Linked DNA regions of Homo sapiens. The protein of the gene in region 1 interacts with the protein of each later gene in a pairwise test. Each region holds a gene or a part of one and is shown on either strand. Other genes may lie near its edges.

The links.
Region 2: the proteins of TAL1 (region 1) and DRG1 interact in a two-hybrid assay, tested with the Homo sapiens proteins (one study listed by BioGRID and IntAct).

The regions. Positions count from the first base shown.
Region 1 is NC_000001.11:47,222,060-47,229,343, forward strand, and holds part of TAL1 (T-cell acute lymphocytic leukemia protein 1), read right to left. Parts: 5' UTR 7,137-7,284; intron 3,831-7,136; 5' UTR 3,830-3,830; coding exon 3,384-3,829; coding exon of another isoform or gene 3,207-3,383; intron 2,040-3,206; coding exon 1,945-2,039; intron 1-1,944. UniProt on the Homo sapiens protein: Implicated in the genesis of hemopoietic malignancies. It may play an important role in hemopoietic differentiation. Serves as a positive regulator of erythroid differentiation.
Region 2 is NC_000022.11:31,430,320-31,434,952, reverse strand, and holds the end of DRG1 (developmentally-regulated GTP-binding protein 1), read right to left. Parts: intron 1,082-4,633; coding exon 982-1,081; 3' UTR 501-981; downstream 1-500. UniProt on the Homo sapiens protein: Catalyzes the conversion of GTP to GDP through hydrolysis of the gamma-phosphate bond in GTP. Appears to have an intrinsic GTPase activity that is stimulated by ZC3H15/DFRP1 binding likely by increasing the affinity for the potassium ions.

The DNA.
Region 1 (7,284 bases):
TCTGAGGAAATTACTTGCTGCTTTCAGGCCTCCAGGCCAGACAGAGAGCATCCCTCAGCAGTGACATAGGGAGGACAGTCCCTCCACCATGGCTAATGCTGGTGATCTTGAGGGAGCTCCTAGTTGGGGAGGGGGTACTTATGACTGCTGTCACAGCTGGAGCTAGACTACATCCAGAAGGGGAGATGGTGGGGAAGTGGTCAGGACTTATTCCAAAGCTTAAGACCAGTGTTATGAGGGTGGTCCAGGACTTAGCTGTGTGACCCAGGACTTAGCTGTGTGACCTTGATCAAGCTGGGTAACCTCTCTCAGCCTCAATTTCCTTATCTGTGAGATGTAAACAATAATATTGCCCTCATGAGCTTGTGGTAAGGAATAAACAGAAATCAAGCACACATAGTCCATGGCACATAGTAGGTGTCCAATACATGGTAGTAGCAATTCAGCAACAGGAATCCACATCAAGTCCTAACTCTAGATCTTGCATTAGTTCTACTTCTATGGACTCTTTTTGGGTTCAATCTCTAATTTCAGTGTCCCCTAGACACATCCTGCACACTCATACCCTACCCTTCGCCTACATGTCTGCCTATTCCTCTCTGGTTTTATTCCAGAGAACCACCCCCTCTCCTCACCTTCCTCTTTCCTGAGTCTGTCTACCCCTCCTGGTGTCCTCTGCCTCTCTCTGGCCAGCACTGAGTAGGTGCTCGGTAAATATTGCCAACACTTATGGATAATGACTGCCCTACACTCCTGCACACCCCACAAACCCTCGCCCCTATGCTCTGCCTCTTCTGCCTATTGTAGAAAATGCCTCATCCCTGGGGAACTTCAGGGCTGGTCCTGTCTTCTTCCTGTTTGGTACACCCACCTCTCTTAGACTAGAGAACTCCTCTCTAATCTAGCAGAAGGCACCCCTGCCTCTCAGCCCTGCACACCTGTGCCCCAGGCTGCTTGGGTCTTTTGAAGTCTTTTCTGTTGTGCAGATCCCAGCCCCGCTCCTCTCCAGAACACCACAGAGGGCTCCACTCCAGAGGCTCCAGCTCCATACTCATATTCCTCCCACCAGTTTGGAGCATAAATCCCAGCCTTGCTCTGAGGCCTTGGGCAGCCTTCCTACAGGAGCCCCAGGCCACAGCCAAGCTGAAGTTCTGGGGGCATCTGGGTCTGGCTCAAAGTCCCTCAGCTCTGAAGTGCCTGCTCTCCTACCCCTGGTGCTGGGACCAATCTACTATACAAGGTCAACCTTGGAAAGATGGCGAGGGTCTTCCAAATCTCCCATTTGTCCAAACCACCCCTGCAAGTTCAGGGAATATTCAAGTACCTCAAAGGAGCAGTGCCAAGGCCCTTCTCGGGGAATCCAGGGGGCAAGGTAGAATCCATGATGTCAGGAAGGGAACTCCAGGTCTAAGCCCAGAATGTGTTAACGGGAGACAAGGGGAGCCTACTGTGTAGGGACCTCGGAGAAAACCCTTGATGACTCCATTGCAGGGAGGAAGCAGACTCCAGACTCTAAGGAAGACTTGGGAGGAAGTGCAGGGAATCCCTGAGGGTCAGTGCCTAGAATGGGGGATCGGGGGACACTGTGTGATTCTGCGCCCACTTGGGATCCTTGCCAAAGTGTAGGAATGGAGCCCGGACTGGGGACTGGAACTAACTCCAAAGGTTTGGGAACTAACTCCAGAGGTTTGGGCTAAGCGCCATTATGTGTCTCTCTCCCATGCCTCCTCTTTGCAGGACTGTGAGTGTGGTCCTGCTAGCCCCATCCAGGACTTTACTTAGCCCTAGCTCAGCTGCAGGGTGAAGGGCTTCGGCAGTTTGGGTTTGGAAAGTGGCCCGCCCATCTTTGTGAGATACCTACGGAGTAGTCCCAGATGTTCCCTCCTCCAGAGGGCTCTAACCAGCGTGAGGGGCAGGTACAACGGTGGGGTGGGGCAGACTCACCATCAGTAATCTCCATCTCATAGGGGGAAGGTCTCCTCTTCACTCGATTGTTGGTGGTGAACATAGGGAAGGCATCCGGCTCCCCAAAGAACCCGCTGTGGGAGGGAACGGGCAGATCACAAGATCCCATGTTGAGGGGAGGGGAGAAAGAGCTTCCTTAGGGATCCTCCCCACATGTCTTGAGCCCCCCACCTCTGGGCAACCCTGGTCCCTTCACACTTGAGCTGGGAATAGGCACACACAGACACACACACACACATACACACGGAATGCCCTCACTCTGTCTGTCATAAAACAAGCAAAGGGAGGAAAAGACACCTAACCACACATCCCTCCACACAAACACAGGCACATATGCAGAAGCAGAGGTGAATAACACATGGAATAAACACAAAAATGAACACACACACACACACACACACACACTTCACAGATAGAAACACTCTCCATTCTCCCGCCCCAGAAACAAGCACATAATCCACACACACCTCCACTCCCAAACACATGCCCACTCAGGCAAATGTAACCTTCACACCTGATGGTGTGCATCTTGGTCACCACAAAGGGGCACACTGTCCCCTCTCCCCACCTCACCCCACCCATAAGGGGCTGTAGATACACAACAGACAGGAAACCCTGACTCCCCTCAGCTGAAATGCTCCGCCTAGCTCTCTGCCCTCACCCACCCTAAGCTCCCCATAGCTCTGTCTCGGGTGCCCGCCAGGTTCATTGACTGCCCCACACTCTATCCCTGCCCCATCTGCCGGTTTCTATTCCAACCCTATGGCTTCTCTCCCTCATCATCACAGTAGCGCCAGCAGGGAAACGGATGCCCTGACACCAACCGGAGTACAGGCTGGGGCCAGAGACCACGGCTAGGAGCAGAGGGGCTGGGAGTGGAGGGACAGGTCAGTCCTCAGGCGGGCCCTCCAGCAGAGATTCGGGGGAGGGTGCCTCTGCCACCACCCTCAGATCCTTATCTCTTGCCTGTCCAGCTAGCGCTGAGTTTCCGAATGAATTTCACACCACAAACATCTACCTCTGCTCACAGCAAAGCACATGCAGGCACACTCTTTCCTGGTACCCACGCTCAGGGGACTCCTTCCTCTCCGTCCCCCACGACACCACCACCAAGCACACCAGCCACATGCCTGCACCCGCGAAGGTGTCCACGTCCTCCTCTCGGCTTCCACACAGCCATGCACCCCGCAGCCACACGCACACTCTCTCTCACAGAAGGCCCCTCCCTCACTGGCACTCACTCGGGGGCTCCAGCTTGAGGCTCTAGAGCCACTGGGTTTAAAACGACCTCCTCTCCCTGCGCTCCACCCGCTCGGCCCCCAGGGCAGGCCGCCGCCGATGTGTAGAAGGAAACCCCGGTGGGGGTGGTCGCCCTGCCCACCCGCCCAGCCCCTGGCCCCTGGCCCCTGGCCCCTGACCTGCCGAGAGAGGCCAGCGGCTGGCTGAGGCTGTAGAGCAGCGCGCGGCCGGGGGCGGCGGGGGCAGCCAGCGCGGGAGGACTCAGCTGCACCATGCGGCCGTCGCCGGGCAGCTCCGCTGTAACCGAGGCGGGCGCGGGGGCCGGGGCGGGCCCGGGAGGTCTGCACAGCTCGGTGGTGGGCACCCGATGGCGCGCTTCGGCCGTCGCCGCGTCGCGGCCCTTTAAGTCTCTCGCGGCGCCGCCCCCACCGGCAGGGCCGCCCCCCGGGCCTCCGCGCGCGCCCAGTTCGATGACTGGGGGCTCCGCTGCGGCCGCGCGGCTCGTCTCCTTGGCGACGCCGTTCAGCAGGACCAGGTGCGGGGGGGCCATGCTGGCCTCGGCCGCGTCCCGTCCCTCTAGCTGGGGGTCACTGCGAGCCGCCTCGCTCGGCGGCCGCTCGGTCATCCTGTGGGCAGACAGACAGACAAGCGGATGCCCGCTCTGACGACCGCCCCTGACCCACCGACGTGGGCTGGGGTAAAGGGGAGAAGGGCAGAGAGAGGAACTCACGCACCGAGACGTGAGAAGAGGCAGACAAAGTTAGCGCCACGTGGGGCTAGGGCGGGAGGCCGGTTGGGGCTAGGGTGGGAGGGAAAGAGGGTCTCTGGATTGGGAGAAGGGAGGGGTGCCTGGGAGACACAGAGACTGAGGGCCAAAAGGACAGAGATGGAGGAAGACGACAGAGACACCGGAAGAAAAGGAATACAGCCAGCGACAGAAACACAGAAGGGGAAATCAGGAGGAAGGAAATGTACAAGGAGGCAAGAAAGAGATTACTCTGTCCCCTTTCTCAGGCCTAAAGGGAAGAGGAGGGAACAAATTCCGGATCGTGCTCTTTGGTTTTAGCGGGGAATCTGTCAGGCAGGGGTTCGTTGCTTTAGGAACCTCCCTTGGCCTCTCAGCAATATTCCCAGCCCACCTACAGGCACACACCCAGAAACCCGGTGCGGATGGAAGTAGGGAATTAGAAAGTGGAGGCTACGGGGACTGGGATCCACTCCGCCAGAGCTGGCAGAGAATAATCCCGAGGAACCAGCTCCCTCCACACACACACACACACACATTCGCCCCCGCTGGGGAGTGAGGGAGTGTCTGTCTACACTGAGCAAATCCACTGTGAGTCCTCTGCCCGCCCAGCGGATCTTTACTCCCACTCAGACAGAGATGAGAGGTCGCCAAGGGAAGAAGATGGTGCTGGCCCAACCTCCCTGCACAGTCCACCTCGTTCTGCTCAGCTGGACTCTGAAGTGAGGTCGAGTCTCAAAGAGAGGCCTGGCTGAGGTAGAATGGAGCTGGGCATTTGAAGGGTTCCCTGAGGCCAGTGGGGTCTGGACTCCCATCCAAGAGCAGGACAGGATGTCATGAGGCCCTTGAACTCTTCCAGCCCCCCTCACCGCCATCTCCTGCCTTGGTGTTCTTTGGGAAATGGGAGGAATACCTCCTTTATGCATTTGAAAGTGCTGTGCAAACGTTCAAGTAAACATTATTAACAAGGAGAATGGGCCAGTGAGAAAACTGCCTGGCCGAATGTCAAGTCACTCACAGCCTATCTGTGAGAGAGCCAGACCAGAGCAATAATCTCACTTTGCTCAACCCTCCTGTATTCCCAGAGCAGTGAAACCACCTTGTGACCCCACAAGCATACTCCGAGATGACCACAGCCACTCTACTTCCCACAGGTGTGCTGGGGCTCTTCCATCACCTGGCTTCATCCAGATAGAGCTGGGCACCAGCAAGAACCAAAACAGAAAAATCAGGAGACTCAAGGGCCAGAGTTTGTGAGTTGTGAGTTGTACATATATGATCAACACCACATAAGTTGTTTAAAATAAGCTTTCTGCTCTCTGAATTATATAATTGGGTATTTAAAAGAAGAAAACAAATACAAAAAAACAATTTACCCCCATGCAGAGTCCATCTAAATCATACATAGCAGCCATTGAGCTCCCATACTGCCACTGCAATGCTCTGGACAGGAGTCATCCTAGGAACCATCCCTCCCACCCCAGAAGGGAGAATGGATCATCTGCAGCCTCCTCTGGAGCTTGGCTCAATTGCCACTAGACACCCAGGATGACAGAGAGTCAAGATTCAGACTGCTGTACACCTTCTTTGGGAATGCCAGCCCCCCAGGTCTGGCACAGAAACCACAAAATTCCCTAAGTCCTGGTGTATACAAGCTGTAAAGGCAGTAGGTCCCTGACACTTCATTGGAAGTGAGTTTATGATTTTGGTGGAGACAATAGGTCTCTATCCATAGAATGCAACCACCAAGACACCAAGGCCACTGGAAATGCACCAGAAGTATATCAGCCAGGTCCTCTTGCTCCCAGCAGCAGCGAAATGTGCCAGAAATATACCAACCCCTGGGAAACATACAAGCTTCAAGGTATTGGTTCCCTACCTCACTGCTCTCCGTCCTGACACACCGGTGTGAGCCCAGTGATCCATGCTTAAGCCCCAGCTTCTAACCGAGTGACAGTGTGCACTGCAGTTGCAGACTGAGCTCAAGCTCTGTTATGACACATTTTTACCCTCCAATTAATTCTTAGGCTCCTGCTCTAGCGGTGGATTCCTGAGAGGCAATGGGAGTACATATTCCAGATGAATTGACCCTGGCCACAAATGTCCTCTCCAGACACCTATAAATATCCCATCGCCAAGGTTCCTTGTAAGAAATATATGATTGGATCCCAGGATCTGTGGAGGACCTCTCCCGGCTCCTCCCCACATTTTAGGAAAATCCTGCCGGTTTAGGATTACCAGCCAGAGGTCCATGCCCCAAAGAAGCCACTCACAAACACTGATGGTTGTTGGCGACTAAGCTGCATCACTTGATTTGGATTACAGAAAGGAACGCCCGAGAGATTTTGTTTGTTTTTATTTGGGGAGAATGAAGGAGGAGGGAGATTTTAGACTGAATCGTTCTAGAGTATTTGACGACTACAGCTCCTCTCTCTTTGTACTACGGAGACCCTGCTTATAGCCCCCAACAGGAAATCCTCATCTGCAGTTGCCAGACAGCCAGAATATTTCCACCTGTGCCAGAACAAGACAGAAGACCCCAGGAGATTCTTCCTGGGGACAGGTCTCAAGCAGACCCAATCCCCCATACAGAGAATTTCTTAGATGAAAACAGCCTCAGGCCCTTAGACCCAGCCTCTGGTCTCTCTTCTGGGCCCACACCAGCACAACACCCTGGAGAAGCCCCAAGCCTGCACAAGTACCAAACCCACCAGGGAACAGCACCACCATCCTCGCCTCTACCGGAGAAGAGGGGTGTTCCTGCCTCCCCACCCTAGGCCTCAGGCCTGGGATCAGGGCCCACTCGAGCTGGGACTGCACTAGCCAGGAAGGCTGCCGCCTTCCTCCTGCGGGAGCTCCAGGCACAGTCTGTACCACCCGGATACAGCCGCCCCAAAGTTACCGGCCTTGGGAAACGTCCACAGAACCGGGACCAATGGGAAAGGCCTGGACGACTAAGTCCAACTAGCTGGTTTTACCCTGGGTGGAAAAGGGAAAAAGCCGCTGAATGCCACAGAGGCAGCTACAGCAGTCAGATCCCGATTCCAAGCTCTGGCTGGTCCTCCCCTCCCCCCACCCCCAATCTGAGAATGGGCTCTCCTCTGTCCTGAGCCTTCCTCACCCCAGGCCGGAACACAAGGCCTTCCTAGACACCGTTTCCACCGGCACCATTCCCCTGAAAACTCACCTGGGGCATATTTAGAGAGACCGGCCCCTCTGAATAGGATCTCCACTCCGCCGGAAAGGGGCGGAAGCCGAGGAAGAGGATGCACACCCGGGTCTTTGCTTTCCCCCTTTTTCGCTGAGAGGCCTGCAGTTACGCTGCGGTGTGGTCC
Region 2 (4,633 bases), on another chromosome or scaffold:
AGAATCGCTTGAACCCGGGAGGCGGAGGTTGCGGTGAGCCGAGATCATGCCATTGCACTCCAGCCTGGGCAGCAAGAGCGAAACTCCATCTCAAAAAAAAAAAAAGAAAAAGAAAAAGAAAAAAGCATTTTAGTGGCCCAGGTGGCAACATAGTTCAGCTCAACATTCAACCCAACACTGATGATGTACAGCTGTGCTCTGCATAGGGCAGACAGCCCAGTAAAAGGCTCGGTGCAACAAAAGCCAAGAGTCATTGAGTACTTACAAATTGCTTAGCACAGTATTTGACATATAAGTACCATCTCCCTCCATTACTAACAATCACCACCGCAGAAAGTAAGTGCTATTACTATCCCCATGTTACATGAGGAAACTGAGGCTCATAAAGGTTGGGTAATTTGTTCAGGGCTCCACAGCTAACTAGAGGTGGACCTGCAATTTCAAACCCTGATCTGCCTGGTCGGAGTACTTAATTACATGATCTCCCAAAATAGGTTAGCCTTGCGGGGAGTGATCAATTAACTTACATAAAGTCCTTCCTCTCTCCAGTATCATGTGGGAAAGACTACTTGAAAGGACTGAAAGCCATATCTAGTTTGGAAGGGGTTCCCATAAGTAAACATCAAGTAAGATGCAGCATGTCATATTTTTATCCATTTCACACTCAAGATGAAGTTCCCAAGGATCCCTTCTGTAGCTGCTTCACCGTATATACCCTTCCTCATTCAGCCCATCCCAAAACAAATTCTGACAATGACACATGAGCTGCATGTAGCTGACCAGCCTACCAGATCTTTTATGCAGTTCGACATACAAGGTGACACCAAGGTAAGACAAATGAAGTTCCAGTTTGGGTGCCTCCATCTCCCTCCCCTGGATCCTGATCCAGTGACTGCCAAAACCAGAAAGAACTGGGGTAGGGTGCTTGATCATGGGGAACGCTGTTGTGGTTCGTCCGGCAGATGGGAAAAGGGAAAGGTTTCACTTCTTCACAATTTGAATGACATCCTCATCCTCCAACGTATGGTCTTTACCCACTTTCTGAGGATTGTGTTTCACAGAGAGACCCCAGACCAGAGCACTGCATGGAAGGGAAAAAGAACAGTCAGTGTAAATAATAACCTAGCTTCTGCCCTATTTGCCTGGATGCCACCCTTCTGCTCAGATTTAGTATCATACCCTTAAGAACCATAGACCTACAAAAGCTTTATCTTCCCTAGCAGCATGAGACACTGAAGCCTTAACATAAAAGCCGGTAAAGACTTCTGGAAGTTGTGTGGTTCCTCTTATTGCAGAAAGTCAAAGACAAAAAACATGTTTAGTATAAAGAGCCTAGTTTAAAATTAAAAGAAAGCATGGATTTGTTATAGAGAAATACTCTGGGCCGGGCGCAGGGGCTCATGCCTGTAATCCCACCACTTTGGGAGGCCGAAGGGTGCGGATCACCTGAGATCAGGCGTTCAAGAAAAGCCTGGCCAACATGGTGAAACCCCGTCTCCACTAAAAATACAAAAATTAGCTGGGCATGGTGGCGGGTGCCTGTAATCCCAACTACTCGGGAGGCTGAGGCAGAAGAATGGCTTGAACCCGGGAGGCGGAGGTTGCAGTGAGCCAAGATCATGCCGTTGCACTCCAGGTTGGGCAACGAGCGAAACTCCGCCTCAAAAAAAAAAAAAAAAATCCGTCTTTAATCTTCATAGAGAAATACCCTGAAAATTTCAGACTGATTCTTACAGATACAATATCACTTATAGACTGTTAGAGAATACCTGTTTTTGCTGGGTTTCCTGAAACCATCAGTGGGTACTGACAAGAAATTAGGGCCTCCCTCTTCAGCCATGCCAGGAAAATCTTCCTCCCTAACCAGAAACTGTAATTGATATGTCCTCCCGATTTACTGGAATATGTGAAGGTAATTTATATCCATGGGCCTCCAAACTTAAGAATATGTTGTGCTAGAGATGAAAACTGGTGAATAAGACACCGAGACCTGCCTCACAGAGACTAAGAACTATGTACCAAGAGTAAAAAAGGTGGCCATATTGTTGTTATATTATCATTGAGTCAAAACCTCTTTAAAAAATCTATATTCCAGGCCGGGCACGGTGGCTCATGCCTCTAATTCCAGCACTTTGGGAGGCTGAGGCGGGCGGATCACGAGGTCAGGAGTTCGAGACCAGCATGGCTAATATGGTGAAACCCTGTCTCTACTAAAAATACAAAAATTAGGCCAGGCGTGGTGGCTCACACCTGTAATTCCAGCATTTGGGAGGCCCAGGCGGGCGGATCATGAGGTCAAGAGATCGAGACCATCCTGGCCAACATGGTGAAACCCCATCTCTACTAAAAATACAAAAAAATTAGCTGGGCGTGGTAGCGCGCACCTATAGTCCCAGCTACTTGGGAGGCTGAGGCAGGAGAATCGCTTGAACCTGGGAGGCGGAGGTTGCAGTGAGCCAAGATCGCGCCACTGCACTCCAGCCTGGGCGACTGAGTCTCTCTCAGTCTCAAAAAAAAAAAAAACACACACACACACAAAAAACACAAAGCACAGAGTAAGGGATCAGTGTGGTCAAGGACATGAAGGAAATGGAAAAGGGATAAATGTTATAATTAATTAGGCCTGAAGATGAAAGTTTTCTATTATTAAGAGAGTTGTACCAGTCTGGGCAGCATGGAGAAACCCTAGCTCTAGAAAAATAGAAAAAATTAGCCAGGCATGGTGGTTTGCACCTGTAGTCCCAGCTATTTAAAAGGCTAAGGTGGGAGGATCGCTTGAGCCCAGGAGTTCAAGGCTGCAGTGAACCACGATTACGCCACTGGACTCCAGCCTGGGCGGCAACAGAACAAGACCCTATCTCAAAAAAACCAAAAAGATAGTTGTGCAATAATTAAAGAAAAAAAAAAAAACAGTAAAATAAGAGCAAATAAAATCCTGTTTGCTTCGATATGTTTCTTATCTGAGACATTTTTCTCCCCTTTTTAATTCCCTGGTAAATTTAAAGTTCTGAAGGTTTTGAACAATGTTTTGCCACCATAGAAGGAAAGAGCTATATATAAATCTACAAAGTTTGAAAAAGGACAGTGTTTAACTTTTTACAAAAGTCATCTTTACCAGTTAAAGTAACTGCCAAAGCATAATGTTTTGACTGTGGTGGAAATTAGCACTTACATGTGGAATATAGTTGTTTTATATGTAAGGATCTGAAGGTCAATAAAGGACTTCACTCTCTCAGTACTCTTAGGATCAGAAACAAGTTTTTTCTTTCTTTGGTTGGTTTTTTGAGGAAGGGTCTCAGTCCGCTGCCCAGGCTAGAGTACAGGGGGCATGATCATTATCTTGGCTCGCTGCAATGTCAACCTCCTGGGCTCAAGCAATCCTACCTCTGCCTCCTGAGTAGCTGGGACCACAGGTGCCTGGTACCATGTCTGGCTAATTTTTTTATTTTTGATAAAAACGGGGTCTCACTATATTGCCTAGTCTGATCTCACACTCCTGGACTCAAGCAGTCCTCCTGCCTTGGCCACAAAGTGCTGAGATTACAGGCGTGAGCTACCACACCTAGCCCTATTTTCTTCTTTTGTTTTTAACCCTTTTTCCTATTCAGAAAAAAAAGTGCGGCGGGCACAGTGGCTCACGCCTGTAATCCCAACACTTTGGGGGGCCGAGGTGGACAGATCACGAGGTCAGGAGATCGAGACCATCCTGGCTAACATGGTGAAACCCCGTCTCTACTAAAAATACAAAAAATTAGCCAGGCATGGTGGCAGGCACCTGTAGTTCCAGCTACTCGGGAGGCTGAGGCAGGAGAATGGCATGAACCCGGGAGGCGGAGCTTGCAGTGAGCCGAGATCGCACCACTGCACTCAGCCTGGGCAACAGAGCAAGACTCCGTCTCAAAAAAAAAAAAAAAAAAGCGGGGGGGGGGGGGGAAGGCCGGGTGCAGTGGCTAGTGTCTGTAATCCCAGCACTTTGGGAAGCCAAAGCAGGAGAATCGCTTGAACCCAGGAGTTCGAGACCAGCCAGGGCAACATAGGGAGACCCTGTCTCTACAAATAAAAAAAAAATTTGCTGGGCATGGTGGCATACACTTATGGTCTCAGCTATTCAGAAACTGAGGTAGGAGGATCGCTTGAGCCTGGGAAGTCGAGACTGCAGTGAGCTGTGACAGAGCCACCGCACTCCAGCCTGGGAGACAGAGAACCTGTCTCAAAAATAATACTAAGTGGGAAGGCTAAAATGAACCCTGTAGTGGCCGGGCATGATGGCTCACGCCTGTAATCCCAGCACTTTGAGAGGCCGAGGCGGGCGGATCACGAGGTCAGGAGATCAAGACCATCCTGGCTAACACGGTGAGACCCCATCTCTACTAAAAATATAAAAAATTAGACGAGTGTGGTGGCGGGTGCCTGTAGTCCCAGCTACTCAGGAGGCTGAGGCAGGAGAATGGCGTGAACCCGGGAAGCAGAGCTTGCAGTGAGCGGAGATGGCGCCACTGCACTCTAGCCTGGGCGACAGAGCGAGACTCCATCTCAAAAAAAGAAAAAAAAAAAAAAATTAACCCTGTAGTATTGAACTAGAATCAGAGATAACAGTATAAACTCATGGTTTTTAGGAAAGATGGATAAATGA